Homo sapiens: one gene and its partner. The protein of the gene in region 2 interacts with the protein of the main gene of each other region in a biochemical or structural test. Each region holds a gene or a part of one and is shown on either strand. Other genes may lie near its edges. The genes, in order: HDAC5 and SIK1.

Region 1 (15,607 bases), on a different chromosome or scaffold from region 2:
CAACAACCAAGACAGCCCAGAGAGCAAAGGCTATCCCTAAAATAGGGTTCTAAAGATGCTGCTGGAGGTGGCAGGCAGGCACCACCCTCGAAAGACCCTTGCCCCAACCCCTTGGGCTTGGGAGACCTGCGCAACTCACACCATCCAAAGAAGCTTCCCTGGACACCTGCTTTTTCAGCCATAGGATCTTGCATCCTGTCTGGAGACCGATCAAGAGATGGGGAGAGGGGGTGGGGAGGGAAACACCAGGCTGCCTGGGCCCTCATGGCCGTGTTTATCCGGGGTGGATTTTTTTTAACCCAAAGGTTAAAGTGTTTCTATTTGAAACATCTATTTACATTCCAGAGTCCAAAAAAAAAACAAAAAAAAAACAAAAAAAAAACAAGGCTGCCGAGCTCCAGGCCTATATCTGTCCCTAGCCGCGTCACAGACACAGCATCAGAGCTGCGCAGGGGGAACATTCTTAGCCCTCTCCCCGAGCCGCTGAGGTGACTCACGCCTCCCTCCTGCCAGCATGGACCAAGCCACCACTCTGAAGGCCAGCCAGCGTTGGGGGTGGAGTGGGGAGACAGGGATCTGGACAGAGGGGCTGCCTGGGAGTCCATGCAGGGGCAGCCAGGCTTAGGGAGGAGATGAGAGAGCAGGGTCCCAGCCTGCAAGGTTTCTGGGGTACAATCTGGAAGCAGGTGAATGAACAAGCTGAGGAGGAAACTTCCGGCCAACTGCTGGCTGCTGCTGGTAGCAAGGAACAGAGGCGACAGGGCAGGATGGGTGGACCTGATAAGCCAGATGGCGTGGAGCTGTCCCAAGCAGATGCTCTGGGATTATTCTGCCTTCCAAGAGACCACCTTGAGTCCCAGAGGCTGTGGGCTAGGGGCCAGCAGGCAGGGTCTTTAGCTGGACCTGTGGACTCCAGACCAGGATAAGAACCAGCCCTCTGGGTTTATTCCTCATCCCAGGGACCTGTGTAGGGGGCCCCCAGGCATACGCCCCTACCTCAGGGGACTACGTGGGTATCTTGTAGAGCCGGTTCCCAAGGTTACACCCCCATCCCCACCCCAGCCTACAGGGCTGGCCCCAGGGTAATGCCCCTATCCTCGGGGCCTGCATGGATACCCTGCAGGGCTAGTCTTCAGGGTCATGCTCCTACATGAGAAAACTGCATGGGCATCCCTGCCTGGGCAGATGATAAGCCATGTTCCAAAGATTTTTTGAATCTTCCCAAAACATTCATGCTCTGACACATCCAAGTCCCACTGCAACCTTATCCCTGGGCAGCTCAGAGCCAAATCACAGGCACCTGCAGAGGCACACAGTTCCCACTTTCCAATTTGAAGCTTGGGATGCACACCCACATATCCAGAGGCAAGGACTCCCCATTCACACGCACACACACAGACACCCACACTTGAGTGCCAAGCCACTGCCAGGAGGGGCTGAGCAGGCATGGGTCCAGCAGGCCCCTCCCTGGAGGAAGCATCTTGTGGTGCCGGCCTGGTGGGGAGGCTGTGCCAGGAAGGCTTGATGCTGCCAACAGGTTCCTGGGAGTGAGGGAAGGAGCGGCCCAGCTCTGGGGGACCCCACCCCTAGCCAAGAGCCAAAAAAGTTCCTGCTGAGAAGGTGGCAGGATTAGGGGGTCCCGAAGCCCATCTGAGCCAGAGTAACACCTCTTCATCCTCATGAGATGGGAATCAACCCAGACCTGGGGAGAGGAGCGCCATCGGGAGACAGCTAGGGGCTAAGGCAGCCAAGCCCCTCAATATCCAAGCTGCCAGCCTCTGCCTAACTCCATCATGACTGCACCAAGCCTCCCCAAGTGTCTGATTCTCAAGAGACTCCTGGCTGGGGACTTGCGGAAGTCACTGTACTCGATCCTGTAGCCCCAAGAACCAAGCCAGAGGAGCTGGAGTAACCTTTATTCTTGTGGACACCCAGCTACACCTTCTTCCCTTGCCCAAACTTGGGGAGCGGGCAGCATGGAGGCGGGTCACTGACCCACTTCCTCCCCTCTGACCACAGTGCCAACTAGGCCAGGATCCTCCAGTAACCCCCAGCCCCCAGCAGTGGATGCCGACCCTGCCAGAGACTGAAGGGACTGGAAGAGATGCAGCAGAGTACAGCGGAGGGGCACCGGGGAGCAGCAGGCTCTGGGCAGGGAGGGCAGGGGCCTCTCTGAGCAGGGATCCCCCAGCCCTGTGTATTCTCAACAAAACTCTCAAGACAGATCTATGCAGGACCCTATCTGTGCAAGGCTCAGGGCCAGATGCTCAGCCCAGGGACAAGGATGCCAGATGACAGAGGGCAGGCAGGGACATCAAGGCACTTACCTGTCACAGGGATGCTGTGCAGAGAAGTCCGCGGCAGGATTTCCAAGGATGGTTCCCGACCTGACATCCCATCTGCTGAGAAACAGGATTCTGTCTCATAGATGGTCTGCAGCATCTCCACGAGCCCCTGAGCCTTGGGCACCAGCAGCATGCCAGGGAGGGGGCCGCCAGAGGCGGGGAGCAGACCGAAGGGAAGGTGGTCGGGCAGCCCGCACAGCACAGGTTCCCTCAGGCCACTGCCGACGGGACCCACACTGTAGGGAAGTGCCTCATCCGGCCTGGGCACTCCTGGCGGCAGGAGGGGCAGGGAGGCCCTAGAGCTGCAGGCCCAGCTCTGCTCTAGAGGGGCATCCGACCACCAGCCTCTCCCTGGTTCCTGGGAGCTGGGGTATGGCTGAGCACTTGGGACAGGAAGGGGAGCTCAGCGGGCAGGCGGGCTCTGTGTTCCCTCCCAACCCTGGGTGACAGCTCTGGGCCCGGCTCCCTGCTCCTCCTTCCCGAATGAGCCGCCGCCGGCAGCTGGCAGGAGACTGAAATAGCAGTTGGGGGAGGGCCCTGTCTATAAATAGGTGGAGCATGCTCAGGGAGCTGCGGGCGGGCTGCCAGGAGGCCCCATGGGGGGGGAGGCGGTTCTACCCCAGGAGGAAGCGCCAGGCGAGGGGGATGGGAACAGGGGAGGGCCTGCACTCAGGGCCAAGGCCACAGCGCTGGGTGGCCAGAGGCTGGGCTGGGGAAGGGCGCCGGCCAGGGTACCCATGCATCTGGGAGCGGCTCTGGCTGCTACTCTTGGCAAGCAAGCCAGGGGATGGAGACCAAGAAGCCAGACTCAAGCCTCCGTCTTTCTTCTTGCCTTCCAGAACAGGTAAAGGAATTGGAAGGGTCTAGGAGAGGCTGGCACACAGGCACCTTCCCTGGAGTTCTAATAGCCCCATGGAGGTTTGCTTAACTTCTGCCCTCCCACAGAGTTGAGAGGTGCCTCCCCACCCCTTCAACCAGCAGAGAGACCCCTAAACACCTGCTAAATGGCAGCTCCCTCCCGCTCATTCTGGAGTGTCGCCTCCAGAGGCTGCTCAGCCTCAGCTTCTTTCTAGGGTGTAGGGATACTCCTCCTGGGCAGACAGGTGTCCCCTGGTCCCCTTTCCTCACCCCAATCCAGGAAAAGGGACCAGGGAACATCTGCTAATTCTCAGAGCACAGGTAGCTCCTCCATGGCAATGTGCCAGGTGCAGTGCTACGAACATCATATACATCATCTCATTAATTCTGCGTGGTGACCTTGGGAGAGGCACAGATGGGAAAACTGAGGCACAGGGAGATGAAGTCACTCACCCTAGGTCATAAAGCTGCTTACATGGCAGGGCTGGGATGTCTGAGGCTCAAGTCTGAGCTCTAACCACCACACTCCACTGCCTCCCATTTCCCAGGGTTTCTATTAACAGGTACAATGACCCCTGTGCTCAAGTAGGAAGAGACTTGAGGTTGGAACCTCGCTAAGGAGAGTCAAGAGTTTTTCAGCATCCAGCCATTACCCACCAGCCAGCCTCAGGCCTGGCAGCACAGCCCCTGCTCCCTGGGTCCTGGGGCTGGTGCACCATGAGGACCAGTGGCACTCCCCCGCCCTCCCCACCGCTGGCCTGCCCCTGCTCCTCAGGTTGTGCCTCCCACTGGTACAAAGATCCCACTTGGCCCCCTGACCTCACTAGAGCCTTTTAATAGCCTGGTTATTCCTGTGTCTATATCCCCCTCCCCCTTCCTGATGTCACAGTTGCTATTTTGGAGCCCCCTCCTTGACCCCCACTCCAGGCATGGAGCCAGGGACACCTGTCCTCTCTCTGGACTGGATGACCTCACCCTCTTGTTGGGAGCCCAGGAGAAGCTGGCCAACCAAGGACACAGTGGCTGTGGCTCCTGGAGCCCAATTTCCCAGCCAGCTTCTGCCAGTCAGGGATGGCAAAGGGGTCTCCTGCCCTCAGGCTGGGAGTGGGAGGATTAGGGGGACCACACCTATAGGCAGAGGCAGGCTTTCCCAGGCCCTTGACTAGCAAGATGTATATGTTGCCAGGGGGTACCCAGTGGTGGACCAGCAAAGAAACAGGGGTCTGGAGCTGCAGCTTCTAAACCAGGGCAGATTCTAGAAAAAGGGCAGTGGAACAGTACTCCCTCAGAGGCCTAGTGCTGGTGGACATTCAGGGTATGGCTGGGGATCTTGTTCACCACCCCTTGCCCCAACCTCATCCTGGCCAACCAGGCCCTCTCAAGAGGAAGGGAAGGGAAGGTCTCCATCAGTGGGGTGATGGGCAGCAGATTCAAGGGAGCCCAGAAAGCCAAGAGCAGCAACCCCTCCCAGCCCAGGACTCCTCCCACCCACGCTAGGAGTAACCAGAAGGGCTGGCTAGCCCTGTCCCAGCTCTCTCTGCCTGCCCCAGGCATAGGAGAGTGTGGCAGGAGAGCCTTATTCTAAAGAAGAGGAAGGCGTCAGTTACCAGGACTCAAAAGCAGGGCCCCCAGAACCTGGAGCACCCAGACATTGAAGGAAACAGGACTTCCTGCTTAGGGAAGATAGTAGCACCCAGGACAGGGACACCCAGAGGTGGCTGGAGCCGGGAGCTGGGGAGCCAGCTCCCAGCACCATTACAGCCTCCAACAAGTAGGAAGCAAAGTATCAGACACAGTCAGAAAATCCTCAGTGCAATTCCCAGAACCCTCCAAGGCAATAAGAGAGGAGATCTGGGATGGGGACAAATGTCTTTTTTTCTTCTGAGATTCAGGTGATACAAGGTCCTCCTAATGTCTAACTTCAATCCTTCATGCTTTAGCCCCCCTCCTTGCAATTCACTTCTCTTTTCCGTTCTCTCCCAACCAGCACACCCATGTATCATCCCACAAACCTTATGGAGCACCCACCAAGCATGGGGTACATGAGCTTCACCCAGAGCCAGGACTGTCTTCCCCAGACTCACTCTGCCCCTCCCTCAAAGGCTGCACTCTGACCTCCTAGCCCTCTGAATCTGAAGGAGGAAAAGAGCCTAACCCTGGCTCCAGGTTCCATTTCCTGAGCCCAAAGGCTGTGGGGATGGGGGGACCTTGACCAAAGGGAAGAAAGCAAGGTCTGCTTAGTGTGCAGTGAAAAAGCCAATGGCTGGCCCAGGAGCACCCTGGATGAAGTGTGAGATGCCAGCTTCCCTGAGACCCAGATATCAGACCTGCCCACCCTCCTGTTCTTTCCTGCCCTTCGAGCCCAGTCATGCTGGAGCCCATCAGCATGGCCTGGGAGCTGCCATGTGCCAGCCAGGCCCCATGCTAGGTGTTGGCTGAACCCTCTCATTTGAAGCCAAGTCCAGGAAAAATGTGAACACCTACTTTGGCATCTTCTACTTCCCCTCAGGGTTGACCCTGCCTTCTCTGGCCATTCCATTCTAAGCCTTCAATCTCTTTGGAATGATAGAGCAGGGAAGAGGAGGGGAGAAGCAGGTCCCGCTCTGCAGTGAGCACAGAGGTGTGCCAGGGGGCATCTCAGTAGAGAAGGGAGGCCAGGAGTCTACTTCTCAGACCCCAGCCCCATGCCAGGATTGACCCACTTTCTCACTGCCTGCCTTCCCTGGGGGCTCTGAAGGAGGCAGAGCCCAAGGCTGGAAGGCAGGACACCGAGGTTCCTGGCTCCACCCCACACCCATGCCCCAGTTTCTCTGGTCACCCAGAGAGCAGGCGTGGGGGGGGGGGGCTGCTGCCCTCCATCCTGGAAAAGGGAAAGAGAGAAAGTGTGAAGGTTCTGGGAGGCGCTGGGCAGGCAGGTGTTGTCATGAAGCTTGTCTCCCTCCCACACTGGGGAGAAGGATCCTGGCCGCCTCCTCCATGGCCCCGCTGCCACCCAGACTGGCTTGCACAGTGGGCCTCACTCTTGCCTGCTCTTCTGGGCAATGGCACAAAGAGGGTACAACCAGAGCTGGCCTGGGTCCCAGGCCCCTGGGCAGCTCCTCCAACCTGGTTGGGCCGAGTCTGAGCTGAGGGAAAGTTCTGTCAGCCTTTCAGCCCCACTGAGGAGAACATGCAGAAGCAAACAGTTCCAGAAAAATAAAGACAGCCTTAATCCTCAAACCCCCTTTTGCCGGAAGAAAAGGCAGAGATCAGGGAATGGTCTCAGGGAAGCAGGCAACCCCATCAATAGCCTCCGCCTGTGATTCCAAGACTGCAAAAGAGGTAAATAAAGTCAAAGGCTGGTAGGCAGCCCGAGCCAGAGGGAAGTCATCAGCTCCCACCTTCCTGGGCAGTGGGCCCCAGAAGGAAATCACTCACAGTCTCCACCTGCTGCCCCTCACCAAAACAGTCTCTCTTGCTAACATGTTCACTGTGAGGACCAGGGATGGCCCATCTCATATTTTCTTCTGTCTTCCACAGGCTGAGCCTGTTGGTGATACTCAGTGAGGACTTGCCAAACTGAAAAGCTCCTACGCTGAGAGGACTTGAGGGGAACCAGAAGCTCTGCCCCTTACAAAGCCTACTGTCCTTTACTCTGGGGAAAGAGGAGCAAGTGTTCAGGGAAGTGAGGAAAAGGTGGGAGGCGCTCAGGGGCTGCAGCAGACCCTGGGGACTAACCATTTCCTTCCTTCCCACCTCTTATCTCCTGCCCCATGGCCCATACCTTTCCTTCTTGGGGCTCTCTACAGGGAAGTGGACACCCGCGTGCTCTGGCTTCAATCGGTGGTCTCACTTTACTTCCGCCGAGTTCCAAGGCATGTGGTTTCCAGGCTTCTGCCAGGCGCTGGGCACCCCAGCCCTAGCCCAGATGCCAGCCCAAGCTCTGGGAATAGCAGACGCTAGGCCCCTCAGAAAGGAAGAGCTGGGGGGAGGCTGACTATCTCCCTGGCCCAGGGCAGCTGGAACCCCACAACTGGGAAAGCCAGTCCAGAACCCCAGGAACACTCTGCAGGAAGGGCCTCAAGCAAACATCCCCAAGCAGTGGCCCCAGTTCCAAAGCCTCTCAACAATCCTAAAATGAGGTTCCCAATCCCTGGCCCCCTCCTTTTTTCCTTCTTTCCCCAACACAGAGAAGACAGCATCTCCCCCTGCTGGGGGGAGCTGGAAAGCCAGGCAGGACGCGGGGCCCATTCCACAGGCCCACTCAGGACGCCCCTCCTGGCCAGGGCTCAGCAGTGGCTCTCAAGCTGCCAGCCTCCTGCGTTGGTGGACACGTCCAGCTCCTCCAACACTCTTGTCAGCTCCCACAGAGGTAGCTGCAAGGGAAACTTGGACCGCCAGCATCTGGAAAGGTAACCCAATAACTTCATCTATCCTGGGTTGATTATCACATTTCCCTGCAAGGGAAAGAAACCCCAAAGCTGGGAAAAATCCTTTCCAAGCCACCAACAGATGCCGCTAGGCAGCTTCAATTCCCTTGGCCAAGAGTTAGACCCCAGCCCCATGGGAAGCAGGGACTGCAGATGGCTCCTGGACAGGTCAGCGTCACAACTCAGAGGAAAGAAGTAGCTGGCACTACTGCCCGACATGGCTGAGCTTGCTGGGGTAGTGTCCAGCCAAGATGCACGAGGGACAGATGAGGACCCAGGCCTCTCCTTTCCCTTCGCCATCCAGCCTCAGAGGGGCAAGCAAGAGGGCAGAGCTGGGCAGCCCACCTGTCCCAGCCCCTAGGGGCTGAATGAGGGCAAGGGCAGAGGGAGGAATATCTGAAGGAGAACAGCAAACCCTACAGAAAGGATGATGGGGAAGAAAATGTGGGGTGGTCTGGATTCCTCCCTGATGCTGCTTCTGTACAATCCTGCAAATGGGTATTCATCCTAGGCCCCAATTGCCCTATCTCTAAAAGGAGAAATATCCACCTACCCCTACATAAAAAAGATGAGGAGTACGATGGGCCGTGGAGAGCTAAAGTTGAGCAAGATGGACCTTTAACACTGTGTGGAAGGAGACACCCGAGGAGGAGGAGACGACAGCCACTACTCTGACCACACTGCCCCAGGACCCTCCTGGGAAACTGCTGAGGGTCCAGCTCAGGCCACTAGAACACAGCCTCACAGGCATACATCCAGACCCAGCTGCACATCAAGCTGCCTAGAGTCCCCCAAATAGACTATTTCTGGCAGCACTGGACAGGGTCCTAGGAACAAAGAGGAACAGGAAATCTCAGAGTAAAAGACCCCAGATTAGCAATCTACCATATGAAGGGCCCAAGAGGAAGAGAGGCAGTCTACCTGGACTCAGAGGAGAGCCGAGACTCCTCTACACACGTCACCCCACTCCCACCCAATGCCACGCACCTGCACACGGAGGTTAAGGCCCAGTGCCCTTGTAAACCTCCACTAAGAAAAAAGTATGGAACACAAACATTCCACTAAGTAAAGAAGCCACCATCACGAAAAGGAAGCTGAGCATTCTGCTATAGTAAAGAAATTCCTCCAACATCATCCCAGACTGCCCAGAGAGATTAAGGGATACACACTGCCCCCTCAGGCCCACCTGTCTTGGCTAGCAGGGGAAGGCGAAGCTGGAGCTGAACACCCCTAAGTTGAGAGGGCAAGCATGGGGGGCAGAGTAGGACCCATTGCCTTCCCAGGACCAGACCGGACCATCGATCCCTCGATTCCCAGGTCTACCTCATGGGCCCTTTCTTGCAACACTTCTCCACTCCTTACCCCCTCATTCCCTTATAGCTCAGACAGTAAAGGTCAGCTGGCCTGGAAGGGAAACCCACACAGCCCATTGCATCCGAAGCTACCCCAGGGTGCTCTTCTCCAACCTCCCAGCTCTTACCCGACTCGTTGGGAGAGTTCATGCCGGCTCTGGGCCTGCAGGAAGCTGGCGTTGGGGGCTGGGACGGGAGGGGGTGGAGCTGCGGTGATGTCAAGAGAGACAGACGATAACAGACAGACGGACGGGACGGGAGCCCGGGGCCGCCGTGCCTCTAATGCCCATCCGAGGCCATCCTTCGGGGCGAGGCAGTCAGGCACTCAGAACGGCATCCCTGGGGAGAGATGGAGCAGGGTTAGAGGCCCCTAACTCAGGAATCTGAGAGTCGAAGGAGACCTTGGAGCTCATCAGTTTGTACCTGGGGATGAGGGATGAGAGGGAGGGATACCTGCCCACAGCCACAGGAGAAATCTGCAGAACTGGATAGACCCTGGTTTCTTATCTTACTAACTGATGAGGCTCCCAGAGCCCAAGGGATAGGAAATGGCTATGGTGGCCAAACCCAACAGACCCCTTTTCAGGTGAGTGTCTACTGCCAGCTGGGGAGACCCTATAGACTCCCAACAGTGCCTGCCATGGGACTAGGTGTGCACCAAAGGAGAAAGTGCAGGGGGGCTTCTGATCTGTATCCATAGCAGTGGGGAGATGCAGGGCTGATCTAGAGTCCCTGGCAGAAGTGAAGGGAGAAACTGGTATCCCAGCCTCCATAGCCTAAGCTGGGACTTCTAGGGGTCTTCTCCCGACTTTCTGATCCTTGTGCCACCCAGCTCTGGAAATATGGATGTGCTTCTGTTTTGGTCTCCCACAGTTCAACAACAGACCAGGACAAGAGCTTCTCTTTCCAGGAATTGAGAAAGTCAGAGACCTCTCCATCCCAAATCTAGTACCCTTGGCCTGGCAGGTGCAGGGCCCAAGCCCAGCACTTTGTGTATATTGTACAGGTTGTGCTCTGTGTAAGGAGGTCTGGCCCAGGGAGATACGAAATCCAGCCTGTGCCCTGCCTGCCAAGCCATGGCCTGACATGCTGAGTCCACCCAAAACAAGGGACGATTTTTTCCCAGTTTGTACGAAAGCAACAAAAGGCCCAGCAGTAGCCCTGCTGAGGCCAGTATAGTAAAGGAGGAGGTATTACAGGACCACGGCTTTGCCAACCCATGCCCACTCCTCCAGTTCTCCCCCACAGTTAGTCCTCAAGCCTCAGACACTATGCATACAGACACCTGGCCCATCCCTAAACGGCCCACGATCCACCCCAGACATGATCTCATTCATTTGCTTCCAAATGAAGGCAGGCCCTCCAATACCCAATGAAAGCAAGGTAGCAGGAAGCCATCAGAGGAGGCTGTGAGCTGCTGCGAGTTTAAGCCCTAACTCTGCTCCCCAAGCCTCGAACCAGCAATCAGCTCTGCCCCCCTAGACAGCCCCACCTCCTGGCAGGATTAATTCTCAGTAAGCCTTACATTCTCATCAGATTCCCAAGGGTGGGGTCCATTTGGAGCCCAGAAGCCCAGAAGCCAGCTATGGCAGAAACACAAGAACATGAACACACATGCGCATGCACGCACACATGCACACACGAGACCCTGAGGTCCCAGGCTTGCTGCTGGGACCACAGGGCTTGGACTCTATGGCTGGAGAAAGGTGCACTCAGATTGGGGGGCAGAGTTGAAGGGGCTAAATTGCTCCTGACGGGCACAGGTATGGGATTAAGACAAAAAAGGCTGCGCAGGCAGGGCTGAGGCCAAGCTCAGGAATGTGGCAGGTAGGGCTGCTGGTGCTCTGGCAGGGCCCACGTGGGCAGGCAGTTCAGCCTGTGCCCACACCAAGGCTGGCACCCAGTCCTGCTCACACCCTTTCCCGTGGGCTGGGGAACACAGGTTCAGAAATGCCCACGATTCCCAGCAGCCTGAGTAGCCCAGTCCATCTCCACAGTGAGAGGCACCTCCACAGCAAGGTGCTCAGAAGGGGCACAGCCCCAGTGGCACAGAAACCAGGTTAAGGTTAGCCCCTAGCCCCCATCATCCTAACCCACCTACTCTCTCTGTGGGTCTTAAAGATGCTGATCCTCACCCCTGAGGCAGAAGAGGAAGGGAGCAGCTCCTTGAACTCATGGTGGGCTCGGGACTCATCTACGTCTACTCCTCCCCGTCCTATAAAATTCAGCAGGATCCCTGGGCCCCTGGGCCCTGTCCACCTGTAAAGAGTGTCTGCCAACACCCCCATCAAGTCTCCCAAGTGAACCAGAGCCACAGGCTGAGCCTCCCTGAGAAACAAAGCAGTGTTCATGGTCTGATCGGGACAAGCACAGATTCCTGTCTGGGGTGGGACATGAAGGGGAGAAGGGGAGCCTGATGTTTAAAACCTGAGCTGTTTGTTCCCACATCTGCCAGAGAAATCTGTTGGGTCTCAGTGGGAAGTCAGGGACACCAGGAGCTGTGTCCCAGATGACCTAACACTTGGATGCCAAACCAGGGAGTGGCCCAACTTCCAGGACATCATAAGCAGACAGACCCCTGCCCACCCCACTACCTCACACCAACTCTTTCTTCCAGACAGACCCCTACCCCACTCCGGGATCCAAAACCACCTCCCACATCCAGCCAAGACAGCCGGACAAGGATGAAGGAAACAGGCTACATCTCACCCTACAAGCTCAGGGCTGAGCCTATGGAAGTAGGGTGGAAACCCCAAACTCTGGCAAAGGGTGGGTGGAGGAGGGCAGACAAGTGAGGGGCACATGGTACAAAGCAATGCTCCAAAGGCCATAGGTTCACAATGTTACCCTGTAGAGATCTTGTTCCTCAAACAACTCCCTCAAAATTCCTGGGGAGTCAGGTGTCCCTTGAAGACCCTCTCTGGATCCTGGAGTCCAGTACCACCATGCAACCCCCTCCCAACACACCTGCTCTGGCCCCAGGCCAGGGTACCCCCTAGGTCATAGGTGACAGGGTCAAGCAGTGTGAATCAAGTCTTGGGAGTCTGAGATTGTTTCACTCTACCCCGACAGTTTCATCAAAAATTACAAACCGGCCAGGCGCGGCGGCTCACGCCTGTAATCCCAGGACTTTGCGAGGCCAAGGCAGGCGGATCACCTGAGGTCAGGAGTTCCAGACCAGCCTGATCAACATGGAGAAACCCTTTCTCTACTAAAAAAATACAAAATTGGCCAGGTGTGGTGGCGCATGCCTGTAATCACAGCTACTCGGGAGGCTGAGGCAGGAGAATCACTCGAACCCTGGAGACAGAGGTGCGGTGAGCCAAGATTGTGTCATCGCACTCCCGCCTGGGCAATAAGAGTGAATCTCCATCTCAAAAAAAAAAAAAAAGTTACAAGCCAAGACATCCCACCCAAAGGTCAAAGGCACTAGGAATTTATCTTGACCCCTCCTGACCATGGCCACAGCCTACCACTTTCCTCAGCCTCTGAGAGCTTCTGTTGCCTAGTGCCTCCCCCAAGCTAGGCCAACAGAAGCCCAGAAGGATCAGAGCCATGAAGGGTGGCTGACTTGGATGTCCAGGCCCCAAACCAGGGAAAGGGGGAGGGTGACAGGGAAGGAAAAAAGGCACCAGGCTGACAAATTCATTTTTGCAATCGGCCCATTTCTGTTTGTCTGCTCAGACGCAGCTCCAGGCATCTGCACAAGCCAGATGGAGGAGGCTGCTATTTCTAGAAAAAAAAAAAAAAAAAAAAAGAGAGGGGGGTGGTGAGAGGGGAGGAAGGGAGGAGGCGGAGGCAGAGGGCAGAAGACGGGGTCTGTTTGCCCTAAAACCTCAGGCAGAATGATACCCTCTTCCCAGCACTACCAGGCAGGGTCCCCATTCAAGAAAGGGCTGCGGCTGGGCCTGGGGTGAGGTGGGATAGGGAAGAAGAAAGGCAGAGAAAGTTTAATTAGCTAAAGTCGGCTACAATAGGCCCCCTCACGGGCTACATCAGGTTTTCATTCATGAGCAAGCTACAGTGCTCCAAAAATGCCAAGAACCACCCCCCCTTGCTGTCTCCCCCTTCCCCCCCCTACTGCCACCAACAGGAGTGCGTCCTCTAGCAGGCTGGCTGAGCCTAATGCTGTGTTCCAGACATCCCTCCTCAAAGGGATGTGAGTAGGAAGAATTAATTATTAAAGAGCAGCTGGTACTTCAGCACCGACTGCACTACCCCCAGCTCCTATAGCTGATGCCCCCTCCCCCACTATGCGGGAACACAAATGACCCCCGCCCAACATTCCCAGGCCCCATTTCTAAACACACAATTAAGATGCCACCCCTACGGAAGGCAAAGCAAACCTTTGTCTCTGCAGCTACTTGGGGTGGGTGGGGCATGTGAAACTGCTGCCCCCCTCCAAATTACATGATCCAGCCAAAGTAGGAGGATATATTGGAAAAGAAGGGGAGGCTGGCACAGAACTAACATTTCCTCCATCCTTGCCCCCAAGTAACCCACACTTGAGATCTGTCTCTCTGGTCTCTGGCATGCCCACATTCCCAGGACAGAGTGGAGATACTGGGGGCCCATTTCTCTAACTCAGAGAGACCCCTACTGCTTTGTCAAGAAAGCCCAGATCCAAGTTCAAGTGAAGAGAGGGCAAAGAGAGGAGTCAAGAAAAGAGGAAGGAGACAAACCAAGATCTCCCCAAGCTTTGTGTTTAGGGAGGGAGAGGAAGGAGGGAAGACTGGAATGAAGAAGCAGGCAGCCCCCAACATGGCTCATCCACCATCCAGCCCAGCCAGCCTAGCCCAGCCCAGCCCAGCCCAGCATCTCAACAGCCAGCATAGGCTCAGGGTGCCTAGGACTGGGGAGACTGAAGACCATGCCTGCCTGCCTACATCCTCTGAAACTAAGAGGAAGCCAAAGGCAGGACCCAGACCCAGACTGCAATCCTGCAAGGCAATCTGGCTAGGGGTCCCTCTGACCAAGACTCCTGGATCTCACCCTCCCCCCCACCTCCTTTTGTTCCCATAATCTGGCTCCATCCTCCCCTCCCAGTTGGACACTGAAACCAATCACCACCACCTCCCCAAGCTCCAAATCTAATCCCAGATCCCAAAAGCATGGTGGTCACTGACTGAGTGATGGGTCCCTTTTGCACCCTCCTAAAAGCAACTGCAGCTGTTACCTTTCCTCTTTAGGGACACACCTCATTTCAGAAGGGGTATCAGCCAGGGGTATCAAGTGGTCATCTCCTCTCCCAAAGGAAGCACCCAACCTCCCCACTTCAACAGCCCCCACCAAGCTCCCAGATTAATTACTTACACCCAGCCAGTTCTCATCTTCCCCAGGGCCCCAGGGAAGGGTGGGGTGGAGAAGCTGACTCCCCCCAAGTTAATAAGGCACTGGTAGTGCCCCCGCTTCCATGAGATACAGATCCAGGATGAAAAATGGGGGGCATCCACCCAAGACAAGAAGGGGTTGGGGGGGAGCTCCATTTCATCTCCTAGCTCTCGCATCCTGGCTCCAAGGTGTCAGACAGGAGAAGAGGGTGGCAACAAACGCAGTAACGCCTCACAGGAGACGGGGTGAGAATAATGGGAGAGAGAAGTAAGGTGGACTCCGCAGTCCCCCTCCTCATGCACGGAAGTCAAGGACATAAAATCAAGGATGCGTTCGTAGCTATGGGGAGAAGCGCTCTGGGTGGACAGCACCCCTCACCTCAGAGTACCAAGAAAGGGGTGTCCAGCGAAGAGGGGTCTGCACAGAATCCGGGTGCAGGGCTCAAATGGCTCTGCAACGCAACATGCGCCGCCAGGGAAGGGGCAAATCAGACAACCCCGGCCGGTCTCCGAGCCATTTGGGGGCGCAGGGCGCGAGAAGGCGGGCCCCTCCCTTACCTGTAGGGAAGGCGCCCCTGTCTGGGAGGGGCAGGGAGGGGCGCGCGCAGCAACCCCGATGTCCCGCTCACGGGCTGCCGATGCTCCCGGGGGGCGCCGGCTGGCTCCCAGGGCCGGGAGGAAGGAAGGGGGGCGCGGAGCGCGGCGCGCGCGCTGGGAGCCCGCGGACAGAGACAGCAGGAGGAGGGGGCGCCGCCTCGCGTCCCGGGGTCCGGGGAAGATGGGATCTGGGCCGGGGCGGCGCGCTCACCCGCTGCGGCTCGAGCTCCGGCTTCGCGGGCGGCGGCGGCAGCAGCGGCGGCGGCAGCGGCGGCAGCACCTCCTCGACGGCTCCTCCATCTTTGCGGCGGCTCCTCCGGCTCCGCTCGCCGCCGCCACCAACAACAACATTCGGAGACGTCACTCCCGTCACGTGACCCGACCCGGAGCTAAAAATAGACCCAGACCCCCCCCCCAGCCCCCCCCGCCTTCCCCTTGCCCGCAGCCACCACCAACCCCTCCCCTGCCTCTCGGCCCTCCCCGCCGGGCGGGGCCAGCGACGCCATCGTGACAGCTCCTTAAAGGGCCAGTGCCCAGCACAGGGTTCGGCCGAGACGGGGTGGAAGGGAAGGGATCGGAACCCAGCGAGCAGGAGTGGAAGGATCGCTGCAGGGGCCGAGTATGGATGCTGGGGCTCAACCTTTGGATTGTAAAAGTTTCCTCCTTGCGCTCCCCGGACTTTCTTTTCAAAACGTGGATGGTGCAATCGTCGCTTG
Region 2 (16,269 bases):
TTAAAAATATAACTTATGTCTGTGAGTATTGAAAAATTTTGGAGAGGATGAGGCAATATATTCTTATGAAAAAAGATTTTTTTGGGTTCAAAATATAGTTATTCCTTTAAAAAGATGCTTTGTGCTGGAGGTGGTGGCTCATGCTTGTAATCCCAGTACTTTGGGATCACCCAGGCTGATCACTTGAGGTTAGGAGTTCGAGACCAGCCTGGTCAACATGGTGAAACCCCATCTCTACTAAAAATACAAAAATTAGCCAGGTGTGGTGGCGCGTGCCTGTAGTCCCAGCTACTTGGGAGGCTGAGGTAGGAGAATCGCTTGAACCCAGGAGGTGGAGGTTGCAGTGAGTCACGATCCATAGCGCCACTGCACTCCAGCCTGGGCGACAGTGAGACTCCATCTCAAAAAAAAAAAAAAAAAAAAAAGATGCTTCAAAGATTGCTGCTTTGAGTTATAAATCTAAAAAGAAAAGTGTTCTATAAATTCTAGCAGTTTGGCAAGAATTTTAACTGCCCCGCCCCTGTGGGTGGTACAATAACTCTAAGACCACTGCTGACCCGTCCCCAACTGAAGAAAGGGAGGAGGAGGAAAAGAATTAAAAGTCAAAGTGTTTGAACTTTTTGAAAACTTGAAAAAAAGAGGGAAGTGTCTCAGCAGGGTTCTGGGGCCCCGGCCAGCGGAATGAAAATTAGACACTAGTGGCCGGGCGCGGTGGTTCATGCCTGTAATCCCAGCACTTTGGGAGGCCGAGGCGGGCGGATCACAAGGTCAGGAGATCCAGACTATCCTGGCTAACACGGTGAAACCCTGTCTCTACTAAAAATACAAAAAATTAGCTGGGTGTTGTGGCGGGCGCCTGTAGTCCCAGCTACTTGGGAGGCTGAGGCAGAAGAATTGCTTGAACCCAGGAGGCGGCAGTTGCAGTGAGCCGAAATCGCGCCACTGCACTCCAGCCTGGGTGACGGACAGAGACTCCGTCTCAAAAAAGAAAAAAAAAAAAAAGACAGGAAGAAAGAAAGAAAAGAAAGAAAATTAGACATTAGCATCAAAACCAGAGGAGTAAAAGTCATTGCTACACCACTGAATTCTATCATCTCCCAACAGTTAAGAATCACATACAGCAGCAGTAAGAAAATGCACCTCCAGAAAAGACCTCAGCAGCAAACACATGGGCAATTTGTTTCTTTAACGGAGCTAATTCCACACAATGGGCAAAGGAGAAGAACAGGAAGAAAAGGAAGGTACTACCATTAGGGTTCAGCCCTTGAGCAAAGTCAAAAACAAAACCAGCTCAGCCCACTCCTGAGGAAATGGGCTGGGCACGCTGCACAGGCAGTACACCAGTGGCCATGGAGCACACAACTTAAAAATGACAACAGAAACAAAACACAAACCAGGCGCACACGGCATGAATTCTGTGCTTAAAGACACTGAGCAAACTGTCGTAAGCTCCACCAATACTGCTACTTTTATTTTCAATCTAGTGCAGAGGCTTTTGGGGGATAATTTCGAATCATAATTCTCTCTCCTACCACACTGTACACCGAGCTGTCCTAATTGCACAAACACACACAACAACATCCCAGAGTCATCTCACATTCCATTTCATAAGAATCATTACGAGGAACTTCAACCCAACACAAATGGATGAAATAGCACCTGCAAAGAACTTCTTCTGCAAGAAGACTTGATTTCACCTTGCAAAAGTGGTCATTTGTCATTAGGGAGGTGTAAATGATTGCTTTGCTGTTCTAATTAAATTAGTACTTATTTCCTGATGATATAATTTATTAATTTCAACATGAGAACAAAAATTAAGTCACAAAATAAACCAACAGAGAGACAGGGCAAGCCATGTTCCTAGCATGGATTAAATGACAAGCTCCTTGCTCTTACTATGGAAAAGTATTTTCATCTCTCCGTTTTTCATGGAAGAGTTTAAATAGGGAAAACAAATGCTCACTACTGTCCTTGCAAAAATAAACTAATGAAAACCAGTAAGAGCAGCTGGCTTTAAAGTTTAATAATTATCTGCAAAGGCAGAAGTTTCCAGTTTCACTCAAATTTGTCCTTTTATACTAAATGCGTGACCTGTGGCAATACCTACAGATAAGTTTGTCTGTTTTCATAGTAAAGCAAATTTACAACAGACTTCTACACATTTAAAACTGGATCAGGTTAGGATACTAAATAAAATTCTAATGAAGCAAATCTCAATTATGATCCAAAAGCAATAAAATAATTGTAAATATATCTGCACAGCCTATAAAAATCAATCTATTTACCTTATACAACCAAATGCCCAACTTCCACACACTCCCCAAAAGGGAAGCCACCTTCAGAAATTGCAGACTTATGCTGTTGGAAATAAAATATAACACATTTGCCAGGATTAGCAGAGAAAGGCAAGCTGACCCCTTACCTGGTAAAGCTTTATGATGTGTGGATGGTTCAGAAGCTTCATCAGCTGAACCTCACGATAGATTTTCTCCAAATTGCTTGAATCTAATCGTGTTTTATCAATTATTTTTATTGCAACCTACAAATTTAAAAAGAAAAAGGATATTCTGTGGGTTTTTTTAAAAAAAGAAAAGAAACCCTCAACCTAATTTACACATTTCATTTTTTGCAAGTTAATTTCTCAACACTCTGTCTCCAGAAGGTCACAAGAAGTTGGGAAAACATAACCAAAGTAACCACTAATGTTATTTAAAATAATCAGAGTTAAGTAAGTGACTTAAGTATTTGCAGGCTCACTTTACAGGGTTTAGCTCTGAGTCCATGAACCACTGCAATCTTAGGTTGGTCCTTTTTTTTGCTATTATCCTCTCTGCTTTCTCCCAATATATGTCCAAATTATGCAGCAACATAATATAAAGCATTATTTTTCTTTACCGAACTAAAAACGGTTACTATTTACCCACCACGACAATCAAGCCTGGAGCAGTGAATCTGCATGGGGTCCACCCGCCAAAGGTCGGGTCGCCCCGGGTCCAGTGGGGAGGCCCCGCCGGCTGGGTCCCACCGCCCCCACGCACCTGCGTTTTGGTGACTCGATGCCGCGCCAGCTTCACCACCGCGAAGTTGCCTTTGCCCAGGGTCCGCTCGATGTCGTAAAAACCCACCCGGAGGGGCTTCTGCTGGCCCTGACCCTGGCCCGCGGGGTCCGCGCTGAACTCCGACATGATAACCATGGCTCCGCGCGCACCTGCGGGGCCGCACAGAGCTCAGAGCCCACCAGCGCCCCCGCCGCCCGCGGTCGGCTCCATCCGTGCCCGCGGAGCCCCCAGTCCCCACGGGACGCAGGGACCTGCTCCCACGCCTGTCGCCCCCACTCTATCCACGGGCCCCTCCAGCCCCGTGGGAGGTGTGGACCCGCCCCCGCCGCCCGCTCCACCCGGACCCCCGACCCTCTTGAGCCCCGCGGGGCGCACGGACCCGCTCTCATAGAGGCCCCTGCCGCCCGAGTCCGGTTCCGTCCCGATCCCGGGACCCCCTGAGCCGGGATTCCACACTCGCCTCCCGCCGCCCGCTGTCGGTTCCGTCCCCACCCTCGACCCCTTTAGCACCTCTGGGCGCGGACCCGCTCCCACACCTGGCCCTGCCACCCGAGGTCGGCTCGATCCGGATCCCAGGACCGTCCCCTGCCCCGCTCCCACACCCTGCCCCCGCCGCCCGCGATCCGTCCGGTCCCCACCCCCGACATCCCAGGCACCTCGGGGATCGCGGACCCGCCCCCCACACCCGGTATCTCCGCCCGCGGTCGGCTCCAACCTGACCCCCGGCTCCCCAGCCCCTGAGCCCCGCGGACTCACTCCTACCCCGGCCCCCCAACAAAGGGGAGCCCGAGGGCGGCCAGGCCGCCAACCCCGCCCGCGAACCCCGCGCGCGCAAGGCCAGGGACCCTGCGCGGTGGCTGCAACCCCGAGCCCCGGCCCGGCGCCCGCGCGGAGCCCCCACGGCGGCCACCTCCGCCCGCCCGGAGCCCGCCGCTGCCGCCGCTGCCGCCGCTGCCGCCGCCTCACCTCCGCCGCCACCGGAGCGCCCAGGCCAGGAAGCCGCCCGCTCGGCCGCTGGCGCTGCTCGGGTGCCTACTGCTCCGGCTGCCGCCGCCGCTGCTGCTGCCTCCGGGGCCGCGCCGCATGTCAGCCCGGAGCCGCCGCGCTCCGCCGCACGCGGCGCCCGGCCCCGCCCCGGCCCGCCCCGGCCCGCCCCCCGTAGTCCCCGCCCCCTGCCCCGCCCCCGCCGCCCGGGCGGGGGCCGCCCATTGACGTCGCTTTGACGCCAGAGCGACGCGCGGCCGAGCGCCGGGCGGAGGGAGAGCGGGAGATCGGGCGGTTGCCAAGAGACTGGCGGCTCTGACGCGCGCGGGATGAGGCCGTTGCCCTGGCGACCGCGGGCCGGTGACGTCAGGGGCGCCCGCCGCCCGAGGCCCGCCCGCCTGCGCTCCGCCGGGCGCCCCCTCCCGGGCGCTGGGGGCACTGCGGGCGGCCCCACCGCCGAGGGCGCGCCCGCCCCTCCACGCTCGGGCACTCGGGCCGGGTCCCGCGGGCGCCTTGTGCTCGCTCCCTCCAGGAGGGGACGGCTCTCGGGCAGGGGTCGCCGGCCCCTCCACGCGGCCTGCGTTCGTCCAGACTCAGAGCCTCGGGACGTGCGGGGGCCCGGGGGCCTCGCGGGCTCGCGCGTGGGGCTGGCGGCGCGGATGCCCTGGGGCGCTGCAGACCCCGAGAGGCCGCTTGCCCGCGGGGACGTCAGCCGCTTTTGCTGTTAAAATCTGAAATGTTCAGCAAGTTAGAAACTTGAAACCTAAGGAAGCGTGACCGGCCGCTCTGGAAGCCCCCGCCGCGCGGCCGGTCCCGGCCCCGGCCCTCAGCGGCGCTGGCGTCTGCGCGTCCCGGGGCTGCCCCCGCAGCATGTGGGGCTGGGACCCTCTTCCCGCGCGGGCCCCGGGCGGACGCTGCGGGCGGTGACGGAGCCAGGCCGGCCGCCTGGGTAGGGGACGGGGGCGCGGGACCACTTGCTTGCCCGTGGCCGATGCCTCATCCGAACGGAAAACGTTTTCTTCAGGGGAGACAGAGGCTGTGGGCGAAGGTATTTTTTAAGCCTGAGGACCCATTTGGGAGTTAGATTCTGGATCGAGCCTAGGGTCAGTTTTCCTTGTGTTAAATAACACTACTTCACAGAAGGGGGAACGAGAATTCAGGGGAGTTGGCACAAAACTTGGAACCCTTCTCGGGAGGCTTTCCTGCCTGGACGGACGCCTGGGAGGAGGGCCCGGAGAAACGAGGATGAGCTTCTCCTCATTCGCCCGAGGGTCTGACCACAGATTTCCCAATCGCCACACACACACACACACACACACACACACACACACACACACGGGTTGTTTGGGAGTCAGTTGGTTTTCAAAGGCTTTCAAGGAAATGAAGAGTCCCAAAGTTTTCCTTAATCGTTCAGAGTGTTTTTCTTTGTCCCAGGTTTATATACCAAGAATACGGGGGAATATTTTTAGTTCCTTTCAGCTGAACAGTGTACAACTGCCTTTTTTCCTTTTGGAGGTCCCAACACCCTGTTAATCCGCTCCTAGGAGAACTAAACAAAAACAAGGCTGGACGTCGTGTCTCCCGCCTGTAATCCCAGTGCTTTGGGAGGCTGAGGCAGGAGGATCAGTTGAGCTCAGGAGTTTGAGACCGGCTTGGTTAACATAGCAAGACCTCACCTCTATAAAATACTTTTAAAATAGCCAGGTGTGGTGGCACACGCCTGTGGGGCCGGCTACTTGGGAGCCTGAGGTGGGAGGATGGCGTGAGCCTGGGAGGTTGAGGCTGCAGTGAGCTGTCATTGCACCACTGCACTCCAGCCTGAGCAAGAGAACAAGGCCCTGTCTCAAAAAAGAACAAAGATAAAAGGCGGGGTGGGGGAGAAACCAGGCCCCTGATCACACTCACCATTCAGTCCCTCAGCCTGTGACTTGAAATACTGCCCCCCGCATCCAGGAAGCAGGCTTCCCCACCCCTCCCACCCTAGCCAGAGTCTTCCAAAAGGTCTTAGGTATTTGCAAACACCTGGCTGGCTGTTTGGAAACATTGCATCAGCACCAAATAAAAACTGCAGCCAAAACTGCCTCCGCAGAACAGGTCCCCAAACTCAGGTGCACTTGACCTTTCACCCTGACCCAGCCCTGAGCTTCCAAAACCCAGAACAGCCCTGTGCCAACCATGGCCATCCTGTTTTCCCTTCCCTGGGCCCGTGGGCAAGGAGCTCGCTCTGCAGAGAAAGGCAGGAAGCACAGAGGAAAAGGCCAAGCTTGGAACGGCTGTCCCGTCTCCCCACTGGGGGAACCCCTGGCACCCTCATAACTAAGTCTGTGCTTCAACCTGGTCTCTGTTACCCAATGTCTTTTGTTGTTGTTTGTGTCCTTGACCCCCCGAGGCTGTATTTCCTCTCAGAAGCTTTGATTTCTTTTCTGTTTTCTGGTCTTCCGTGCCTTTAACACGAGGAAAAATAAAACACATGGTGTGAGTGTAAGGATGGTACAAGCAAATGATTGGAGAAGCTCCTCACTGAACATAATGGAAGGAATGCTCCCAAAGTCTGCAGGAACGGTACTTTATTATTATGGTTTGCATATTATTACAGATTTGTGGAAAACGGCAAGTCAGTTTTCCTTTCCACATGGACTTTCTTCAGCTTGTCTTATGATTGCCGTGTTTCTGGAGTTCATCTTGTTTTTTAGGCCTTAAGACTGGAAACCCCAACAGGAAATGGGTCCATTTATTATTCATAGTTGTAACGCTGGCCACTGGCATGTCACAAAACTCTCAAAATCAATTGATAAACACAGAGAATGGAGCGTGGGGCAGCATTTTTGCAAAGGGATGGGTGCCCAGCTGGCCCCAGTGCCGCCCTCTGTGAGGAAGGAATCTCCCAGTGCAGCCAGGAGTCAGACGAGTTCCTCTTCCCGACCCTACCCTCCCATCTTCGACGCCTAAGGCCCTTCCCTGTCTTCCTGGCTTTGCTTCAGGTGGTTTTGTACTTTTTAAATTTTGTTTTGGTTTGTTTAGGCTTCAGCCTAGCGGCTTTAGGTGCCAGAAAATCAGATTAACCACTGCAGCGGCATCCTTCTCAGGGACCCGGGGGCCACGTTGGTCATTTTGCCCCATTGTATCTGGAGAGCTTGACAGACAGACATGTGTGCACTAGGTCAGGAAGCCACGGCCCTGGCCTGGGAAGAGGGCAGGTAGGAGAAAAGCCCCCAGCCCCCTCCACCCTCAGGGAATGGCCCAGTTGTCCACAGGTTAAGTCAAGAATCCCCCGCGAACAGGTCAAACCAGAGACTGCCCAGTCCCAGCGTCCGCCCCCAGGGCATTGCTTCCTTCACCTCCTACACTTGGCTCCCTGTGGTTCCGTGGCTGCCACAGTTGTGTGGATCCTACCGGGCCCAGGGCCCCTCCCCATCTCAGACAGCACCCACTTTCAGGCTAGGCCTTCCACGGGCTGCTTAAATGGACCACGAAGGCCGGCAAAGCAGCAGAAACGTGCCTGTTCACGGGCCAGTCGGCCCTCCCCGCTCCAGCCCTCTAGGGTTTCTGGTTCCGGTTTCTGTCGCTGCCGTTAGTGAGGAATTATTCATGTGGCCAATGCGTTTTCTTGACATTTAAGCAGGGCTGTGGCCGATATCAAGGCTGAGGACCCAAGAGGCCTTTGGGTGTCTGTGTCCCTGAGCCATATGCTGAGGTCGGACGGCGGGGGAGGGGGGTGCAGGAAGGGGCCAGCCCCAGCGAGAGTCAGCCAGGCCCCAAACAGAGCCAGGGGTTCCCCCGGGGGGGAGTGCTCACTTAGGAAGAGCACCATGGACAGCCTGGCAGGAGGTCACCCTGTGCTGAGCAGGCAGCGCTGGAGTAAACCACCTGCCTCTCTGTAGGAAGAAGGAAACCGCATCCGCAAACGGAGCAAAGGTCCCCAGAGGCAGAGCAGAAGCCTCTGGGATGCTGCAGCTTTGTGCAGACACTGGGGACCAGGACTGGAGCAGGTGCTGGCCGTGCTCTTTATCCTGGGCACTCTGCCAGGGCCACACGGAGCGTGGCTCCCGGGAGATGGAGACGTCTGAGTGTCAGCTCAGGTCTCGGTGTTTCCAGGTGACATGCTGGCTGCTAGTGTAGAGCATGGTAAACCATCTTTTTTTTTTTTGGTTACTATTTACTTATGCAAAATAATGTGAGTTTCTGCCATTTGCAACAAGTGTGCCAGCTGCAATGAGTCAGCGGGTGGACACAGGTGAGCATGGCCAGACTGTGCCAGAACATGGTGACAGACAGACATGCTTCGAAGTTCACTGTGGGAAGGGACAGGTCCCCAGAGAGAGGTGAGACGGTGCAACGCGAGGGTGAGTTCGGAGTCATCCTCCAGATGTCCACAAAGGCTCGAGAGGCCCTGCTGTGTGTCAGGCACTGCGTGAAGGTTGTGGGCACAGTAGGAGGGACACAAGACACCTTCTCTCGAGGACCGTTGGTTCCAGTTGCGGAGACAGTAACAGCATAAGATGATGAGTAAGAAAAGAATGCTGGCAGGAAAGTGGCCATGGAGGGAACTGCTTCCGGGCCTCTCCGTGGGATTTGCCAGGCGTGGACTGAGCGAGGACCTTCCCTGAGAACACCAACTGCTCCAGGAGAGAGAAGAGGTGGAGCCCCGGCGGGGGGCATGGGGCAGGAGGCAGCCACCCACACCTTCCCTCTCTGAATGCTGAGCAGAGGCTCTCAGCAGAGGGGAAGAAGAGCAGAGGCCACGATTGGGAAGACAGACCCAGTGGGGGTCCTTGGCGCCGTCCACATCCATCTGCAACCTGCTGCCCAGCGCCTGCCTGCCCGGGGTGTGCACAGAGCAGTGTGGTCTGTCCCGGCTTCACGGCCTGACACGGCCAGGCGAGGATGACAGGGAAAGGGAGGCAGGGACTTGGGGCTGTTGGAGCCAAGCTGAGGAGCAAGGAGCTGCGATGGGAAGCGGGTGGCAGGAAGGAGCGTGAGGCCTGTGGGTGGAAGGTCTCTGGCCTTGGAGATTGAAGCGTTTCACTTGTGCATCTCACAGCCCAGAGAAGCCAAGCCCGGACCATGGGGGAGAGAGGAGGACCCCCGTCTCAGGGCGGGCTGAGGAGACGCTCTCTCCACGGCTTCCGGATGGGTCTCCCTCCATCTCAGCTGCATCTATGGGAAAACGATGAAATGCTCCCTCCACTGCCGGGCCTTCTCTTATAAAGCAGGTTTCTTCGAAGTATAAAAATTAATAGAAAAGGTTCCATAGAAAATCAAGAAAGTAAGTATGTAAAGATGAAAACAAAAAGCACCGGAAATGCTCTTCATAGCTGACGTTTTCTTATTCACTTTTTATTAAAACAGGATGAGGCGTCCTGCCTTTTCCAGCCTTATCTAGGAAGTGTCTTGCCAGGTCACCAAATGGCAAGCAGAACCGTAAGCTGAAGTTGTCTGCCTAGAATTCCACTGTGGCAATGTTCAGCATCCCGACTGGACAGCTCCGTGCGGCGGCATCGGGGGCGCGGCGGCATCGGGGGCGCGGCAGCATCGGGGGCCCTTTTCATGCCATTCAAGGCCCCGTGGAAACAGACACCACAGCTCAGCATGAGACTGTGGCCCCACCTGACCTGGCTCATCCATCCCCAGCCTCTCGTGGTCCCCGGCCCTATGCCGACATTTGGCACTCGATGAGCCATTTCTCCACATTTCAGGAGCCTTGTTTTAAGACAGCCTGGCTGTCTGAGAGCCACCGGAGTCGAGACTGGATGCCCGGCCTGGTGCCCGTGGGCCAGCACCGCCTGAGGAGGAGGGGTCTCTGGAGGCCACAGGCAGAGCCACTGAGAGGGATCTTTAAGCAGAGGGCCCCACACACCTCCTGGGACCCACGGGTGTGGCTGCCATGCAGGGTCTGGGAGCTACAGAGAGTCGGGAACCAAGGGCGCGGTGGCTCACACCTGTAATCCCAGCACTTTGGGAGGCCAAGGATCACGAGGTCAGGAGATCGAGACCATCCTGGCTCATACGGTGAAACCCCATCTCCACTAAAAATACAAAAAATTAGCCGGGCGTGGTGGCGGGCGCCTGTGGTCCTAGCTACTCGGGAGGCTGAGGCAGGAGAATGGAGTGAACCCGGGAGGCAGAGGTTGCAGTGAACCCAGATTGCCCACTGCACTCCAGCCTGGGCAACAGAGCGAGACTCCGTCTCAAAAAAAAAAAAAAAGAAAGAAAAAAAGTAAAAACAAGAGAGTAGGGAGCCAAGTCCCTGGGTTGCCAAGTCAATCCGTGGAAGCCCCTGACTTCGAGCAGGACACAGGGCCCTAAGGACAGCCCCAGCCCCTGCAGTGTGGCCTGCAATGGGTGTCATTCATTTTGACCTGGCTGTTGTGGTTTTGGGTGGTATTGTTATTTGTTTGAAAAGAAAACACATGGGCTGCGTATGGCATGAGCAAGTACAGACGTCATTGGGATCGGCTAATGAAAATGACAGAGTACTCTAAAGTGACACCTTACAGGGACGTGGTGATGTGGCACCAGGCCCAGTGGCACCAGCACACCACCGTCTCGCTGGCATTTCCACCGTGGTCCCTGTTAAACCAGAAAGAACGAAAGTGTGATGGGGAAAAATAAGTATGTGTTTCTTGTAAAACACAGCTCATTTCAAAACTACTGAGAACAAGGGGACAGTTTGAAATTGGGCAGAGCCCCTTGGGACCAGCTGGACCAGGAAGAAGGTCCAATCAGCTCTTCCTCAGGGCCAGGAATCTCTCGGTCACTCCGAGGCCTGGAAGAAAGTTTCCAGAACCTTTTTTTGCACAAATAAACTGCAGATCTGAAATCAGCAAGAAGGTTCAGGACCTGGGCCCCCAGGATTGGAACCACGGGAGTCTCAGATCCTCAAACTAGCTGGGTTTGCTTCAGTTTTCTCAGGTGGGACGGGCCACCCTGGGTTTCCCAGGGTGATGTCCCAACAGTGGAGGTGAGATGTCACAGAATGGAGGATGTGATATGATCTGTAACATGGAATCCAGCAGAAGCTCCAGCACTTAAAAGACAGGAAGCAGTGGAGGGCCTGGGTGTCCCAGCCTTCATCATTCCCTCACCTGGAGCAGTTGGTGTCCTCAGGGAAGGTTCTCATTCAGTCCATGCCTGGCAGATCCCATGGAGGTGCCCGGGTGATTCTGGCACAAGGGCTGGAAGATTCCTTCTTTGATCCCTGCTGGTGGCCGGAGCTGGCTCACAGGCCTGGGGCTGCTCAGCTGCAGGACAGTGGGAGGAGGTGGGCTCTGGGTTCCTCAACCCGGCTCACAGCCCTGCTCCGACTGTCCCTGCTGGGCACCCCTGGCGGTGATATCATCAGCCTGGGCCTCCGTTTCTTTTTTCTTTTTTTTCTTTTTCCTGAGACGGAGTCTTGCTCTGTCTCCCAGGCTGGAGTGCAGTGGCACAATCTTGGCTCGCTGCAACCTCCACCTCCCAGGTTCAAGTGATTCTCCTGTCTCAGCTTCCCGAGTAGCTGGGACTACAGGCATGCACCACCACGCCCAGCTAATTTTTGTATTTTTAGTAGAGACGGAGTTTCACCATGTTGGCCAGGCTGGTCTTGAACTCCTAACTTCAGGTGATCCGCCCACCTTGGCCTCCCAAAGTGCTGGGATGACAGGCGTGAGCCACTGCGCCTGCCCTCCATTTCTTTATGAACAGTGTGTGGTCCCAGCATCCTGAAGTTGGTGTGAGGTGCAGGTGGGACGGCTTTGGGGCAGGCCCCAGTGCAGACGGCCCTGCTGCTGCCCCTGCCCGTGCCGCTGCCCCTGCCCCTGCTGCTGCCCCTGCCCCTGCCCCTGCCCCTGCCGCTGCCTCTGCCCCTGCCCCTGCTGCTGCCCCTGCCCCTGCTGCTGCCTCTGCCCCTGCGTTCCTGAGCAGGCCACCATGCTACTCTTTGGGAGTCCTTTTTCTTCTTTTTAAATGAGGCTTGATTGGCTTAGGGAGAAACAGGAGACACCGCATACCATGCAGTTAAAAATGAAACTCGGATTAAATGAATATTGAATTCAGTACTGTACTGGCTTCCTAGAGCTGCTGAAATGCAAACTGGGGGCTTAAAACCACGGAGACGTATTCCCCCACAGTTCTGGGAAGTAGAAGCTCGAATGCCTGTTGGCAGGGCTGAGCTCCTCTGCAGGCTGTGGGGAAGGACCTGTCCCATGCCTCTCCTGGCTCCTGGTGGCCGCTGGTAAGCCTTGGTGTCCTGTGGCTTGTAGACACATCTCTCCAAGTGCTGCCTCTGCCTCCATCTCCGCGTCTTCCTGCCGCCTCCTTATAACGACGGCAGCCATTGGAATGGGGGCCCACCAAAATCCAGTCTGACTTTGTCTTCATTTAACTGATGATATCTTTAAAGATCCTGTTTCCAAATAAGGTCACATTCTGAGCATCCAGGGGATGCGAGTTTTGGGGAGACTCGATTCCACCAACACCAGCATCGAAGAGGGCAGGGCACAGAGATGAAGCTAAGGTCCAGGGCGCACACACTGATGGGCACCCTTGAAATAACGGCAAGGTTGGTACGGGCACATCTCGATCGGAGGGGCCGAGGGGTGAGGGAGGGTGGGGAGGAGACTCCCAGAATGGGAGACACCAGCTAAGCAGTGGGGCTGGGAGAGGGCTCCAGGATAACAAGCAGTTGGGCGGGGGACGACACAGGAGAGCACACAGCGGGGGAGCAGGGCAGGGGACGACAAGGGAGAGAACACGGCCAGCCCAGGATCCTCGCCCTGCCTTCGCCTCGAGCCCCAGACCAGACTCACCCTGACGATGCCTGCTCCCCATCTACTGCCTCCAGGGACCCCCTATGGGTTCCCCCACTCATAAAGAATGCCGAGGAGTTAGGAATAGGACAAGCACGTGTCCCTCAAGGCTACTGTTGGGATGCCCAGGACTTGTCTGAGCCCTTCTCTAGACCGGCTGCTCATCCACCCGCTGCCTCTAAAACCAGGTAAGAGAAGGGGAGAGAGAGGGTCAGGAGATGCCCTGGCCCAGGAGCAGAAGCTCCCCTGGAGGCCTCGGTCTGTGGGCCTCCTGCAGGCTGCACAGGGGGGGCCACAGCTGTCCTCACCCAGGGGCCATGCCCTCCCAAAAGGAGGCCACCAGAGGCCCCTTGTCCCACATTTTTGGAGTGTGGACAGCCAAACTGGGTCATTCAGACCCAACCTGGTCACTGTGGAGGGAATGGGCTGTGCCCCACTCCCCACCCAATACCAGGCCGAGGCCAGCAGGTCTGAGGGTCCCTGTGGAGCTCTGTCCTGCCCCAGCCCCGGCCAGCTGTCCTACTGGCTCCTCTAGTCCTCTTCTTAGGTAAGGCTGAGAAAGTGGGTCAAAGGCAACAACCTCAGAGCCTCTGGCCGCTCCTACCTGAAGGGCCGGGGCTCTGTGTGGGTGAAGACCGGCAGCTTCCTGGAGTAACCAGAGGGCTGAGCCTCCTCCTTGACTTGTTCGGAGTGTTTCTTCACTGACCGGTTTACCTGGGTGTGCATACGGAGGGTGAGCCACTGGAACAGTGAAAGCGTCCACCCTTCACTGAGTCAGTCCCTCTCCCGGAAGGGGCCAGGGACAGGGCAGGATGGCTGGGCATTGCAGGAGATTCTTCCCCTCTGGCCACATTCTCCCCATGCTGGGGAGGTGGGGGTCAGAAGCCCACCAAACAGACGGGGAAGTAGGGACAGGTGAGCCAGACCGGATAGTGGGGCACCACCCTGTCCCTGGGAACCCCCATGACTGCCTCGTCTCCATCCCCTCTAAAATGCCAGGTCCACAAAACCACGGTGAGATGCCACCGCACACCCATTGGGATGGCTACCATCAAAACACAACAGAAAATTACAAGTGTCTGCAAGGAAGTGGAGAAGCCGGAGCCCTTGTGCACTGCTGACGGGAATGTGAATGGTGCAGTCGCTGTAGGAAATGGTCGGTGAGTCCTCAGATGGCATGGTGATCCCACAGGCAGTTCACACGAGCAGGAGGTGGGACACTCAAACATCCATCCACAGATGAATGGAGACACAGAATGTTCCACAAAATGGAATATTACTCAGCCTTAAAAAGGAAGGAAGTTCTGAGACATGCTACAACACAAAGGAACCAGGAGGACATCATGCTGCGTGAACGAAGCTGGTCCCAAGAGGACAAATGCCGTATGGTTCCACGTGCACAAGGTCCCTGGAGTACTCAAATCCACAGAGGCAGAAAGTAGAGTGGGAGGTGCTGGGGCTGGGGGAGTGAGTGTTTAATGGGTTCAGAGTTTCAGTTTGGGAAGAGGGAAAAGTTTGGAGGTGGATGGTGGTGATGGTTACACAGCAGTGTCAATGAACTTAACGTCACCAAACTGTGTGCTTTCAGATGGTTAAAATAGTAAATTTTATGTTATGTGTATTTTACTGCAATAAAAAAATGTTAAGCCAGGTCCCATAGTTCAGCAAGAACCAAAAGGGCCACAGGACCTCCCAGTAGCTCCCTGCCCCGTCCTTAGAAACCTGAGCCCCCTCTGGCACGGAGGGAGGCCTGGCACAAGAGGCTGGCAGTGGGGTGGGCCTTGGCAGCCCACCTGCAGCCTGGCCTGGGCTCCACATCTGCGAGGACTACACCGGGTGCTCCCAGGAGCTCCGAGTTCTCAAGAGACACCTCAGCTTTCTCATCCCCAAAACCTCCTTCTCTCCATTCGGAGCGTCTCCCCTGAACCCGACATGCTTCCCCAGTGGGAACTATGCTCTCCCCTGCCCCACCCCGGTGGACGGGTCCTGCTGCTGCCCTGACACCCTGGCACTTCAGGCAGCCACTGGAAGGGCCCAGAACCAGGAGCACAGGTGCTCCTGAGCCATGCCCAGCCACCCCCGGTGGGGGCAAGCTCCGTGGCTGCGCCACGCCCTGGAGGGCTTTAGAAAGCAGCTGTGTTTGCTTTGCCCCTAGATGTCACTTAGAAACAGTGTGTCCCATAATTGTTTTCTGGGGATATTTTTGGCTTTTTTTTTTTTTTTGAGATGGAGTTTCGCCCTTGTTGCCCAGGCTGGAATGCAGTGGCACGATCTTGGCTCACTGCAACCTCTACCTCCCGAGTTCAAGCGATTCTCCTGCCTCGGCCTCCCAAAGTGCTGGGATTACAGGCGCGCCACCATGCCTGGCAAATTTTTGTATTTTTAGTAGAGACGGGGTTTCCCCATTGTGGCCAGGCTGGTCTCAAACTCCTGACCTCAGGTGATCCACTCGTCTCGGCCTCCTAAAGTGCTGGGAAACAGGCATGAGCAACTGCTCCCGGCCATGTCCCATAATTGAATCTGTGCTACCAAATTTATATTTTATAAATATATATTTTTAAAAATTCCAGTTTGTAGCAAAGATGGTACTGTGGTTTGAAAGTGTTCCCCAAAGTTCATGTGTCGGAAGCTTGATCCCCAACATGGCCGTGTTGGGAGATGCGGTCTCATGGGAGGTGTTTGGACCGCAGGGGCACGACCCTCACAAGTGGGTTAATATTTTATTACAGCAAATATATACTAAGTTTGTTGGCCTTTGTTGGGCCTGTTTATTACATCTTGGATTTTCAGTGACTTTTTTTCTTCTACCTGAGTTTAAAACAGTGCACATGAAAGGATTTGGAATTTTAAAACTTTTTTCTTGATGATAAAATTGAATATATGATTATTATAAAAAATATATATGAAAATAATAATACTAACATATAAGAAATAATTCATAATTCTACCACTCAGATATCATCACTCAGTATTTTGGTGCATTTTTTTCTAGTTGAATAGATGTAAATTTTTAAAAAATAAATTTGGATTGTACCCCATATGAACACTCTTATAGCCTTTCTATTTGTAGAAAGAGAATTCCATGTATCATATATAATTTAAATACATTATTCTTAATATCTAATATCTCATGTTTAACATGTAACATTCCCATTTATTTAACATTTCTATTTGTAGACATTATTGTTTCTACACGTTACTATAAACAGTGTTATTGTGAGCATCTTTCCCAAAACTCTTAATTCCTATGTGAAATTTTTCCCTAGGATAAAGGCTTAAAAATGGAATTACCAAGTGAAAGAGGATAAAGTGTCTTAAAGCCTTTGATATATGTTGCCAAACTGCTGGGGCACCCCTGACCTTAAACTGTGCCAACATTTAAGAATTTTCATTTTAAAAATATTTTGCTAAGTTCAGAAGTGGAAAATAATATCTGTATT

Evidence for each region.
Region 1: of the proteins of SIK1 (region 2) and HDAC5, one has a biochemical effect on the other in vitro, tested with the Homo sapiens proteins (3 studies listed by BioGRID).

What each region holds. Positions count from the first base shown.
Region 1 is NC_000017.11:44,108,402-44,124,008, forward strand, and holds the start of HDAC5 (histone deacetylase 5), read right to left. Parts: upstream 15,241-15,607; 5' UTR 15,103-15,240; exon of another isoform or gene 14,853-15,102; intron 12,195-14,852; exon of another isoform or gene 12,037-12,194; intron 11,703-12,036; exon of another isoform or gene 11,586-11,702; intron 9,304-11,585; 5' UTR 9,115-9,303; coding exon 9,093-9,114; intron 7,595-9,092; exon of another isoform or gene 7,511-7,594; intron 2,865-7,510; exon of another isoform or gene 2,581-2,864; intron 2,403-2,580; coding exon of another isoform or gene 2,400-2,402; coding exon 2,328-2,399; intron 1-2,327. UniProt on the Homo sapiens protein: Responsible for the deacetylation of lysine residues on the N-terminal part of the core histones (H2A, H2B, H3 and H4).
Region 2 is NC_000021.9:43,422,985-43,439,253, forward strand, and holds the start of SIK1 (serine/threonine-protein kinase SIK1), read right to left. Parts: upstream 4,148-16,269; 5' UTR 4,026-4,147; intron 3,209-4,025; 5' UTR 3,195-3,208; coding exon 3,039-3,194; intron 2,540-3,038; coding exon 2,423-2,539; intron 1-2,422. UniProt on the Homo sapiens protein: Serine/threonine-protein kinase involved in various processes such as cell cycle regulation, gluconeogenesis and lipogenesis regulation, muscle growth and differentiation and tumor suppression. Phosphorylates HDAC4, HDAC5, PPME1, SREBF1, CRTC1/TORC1.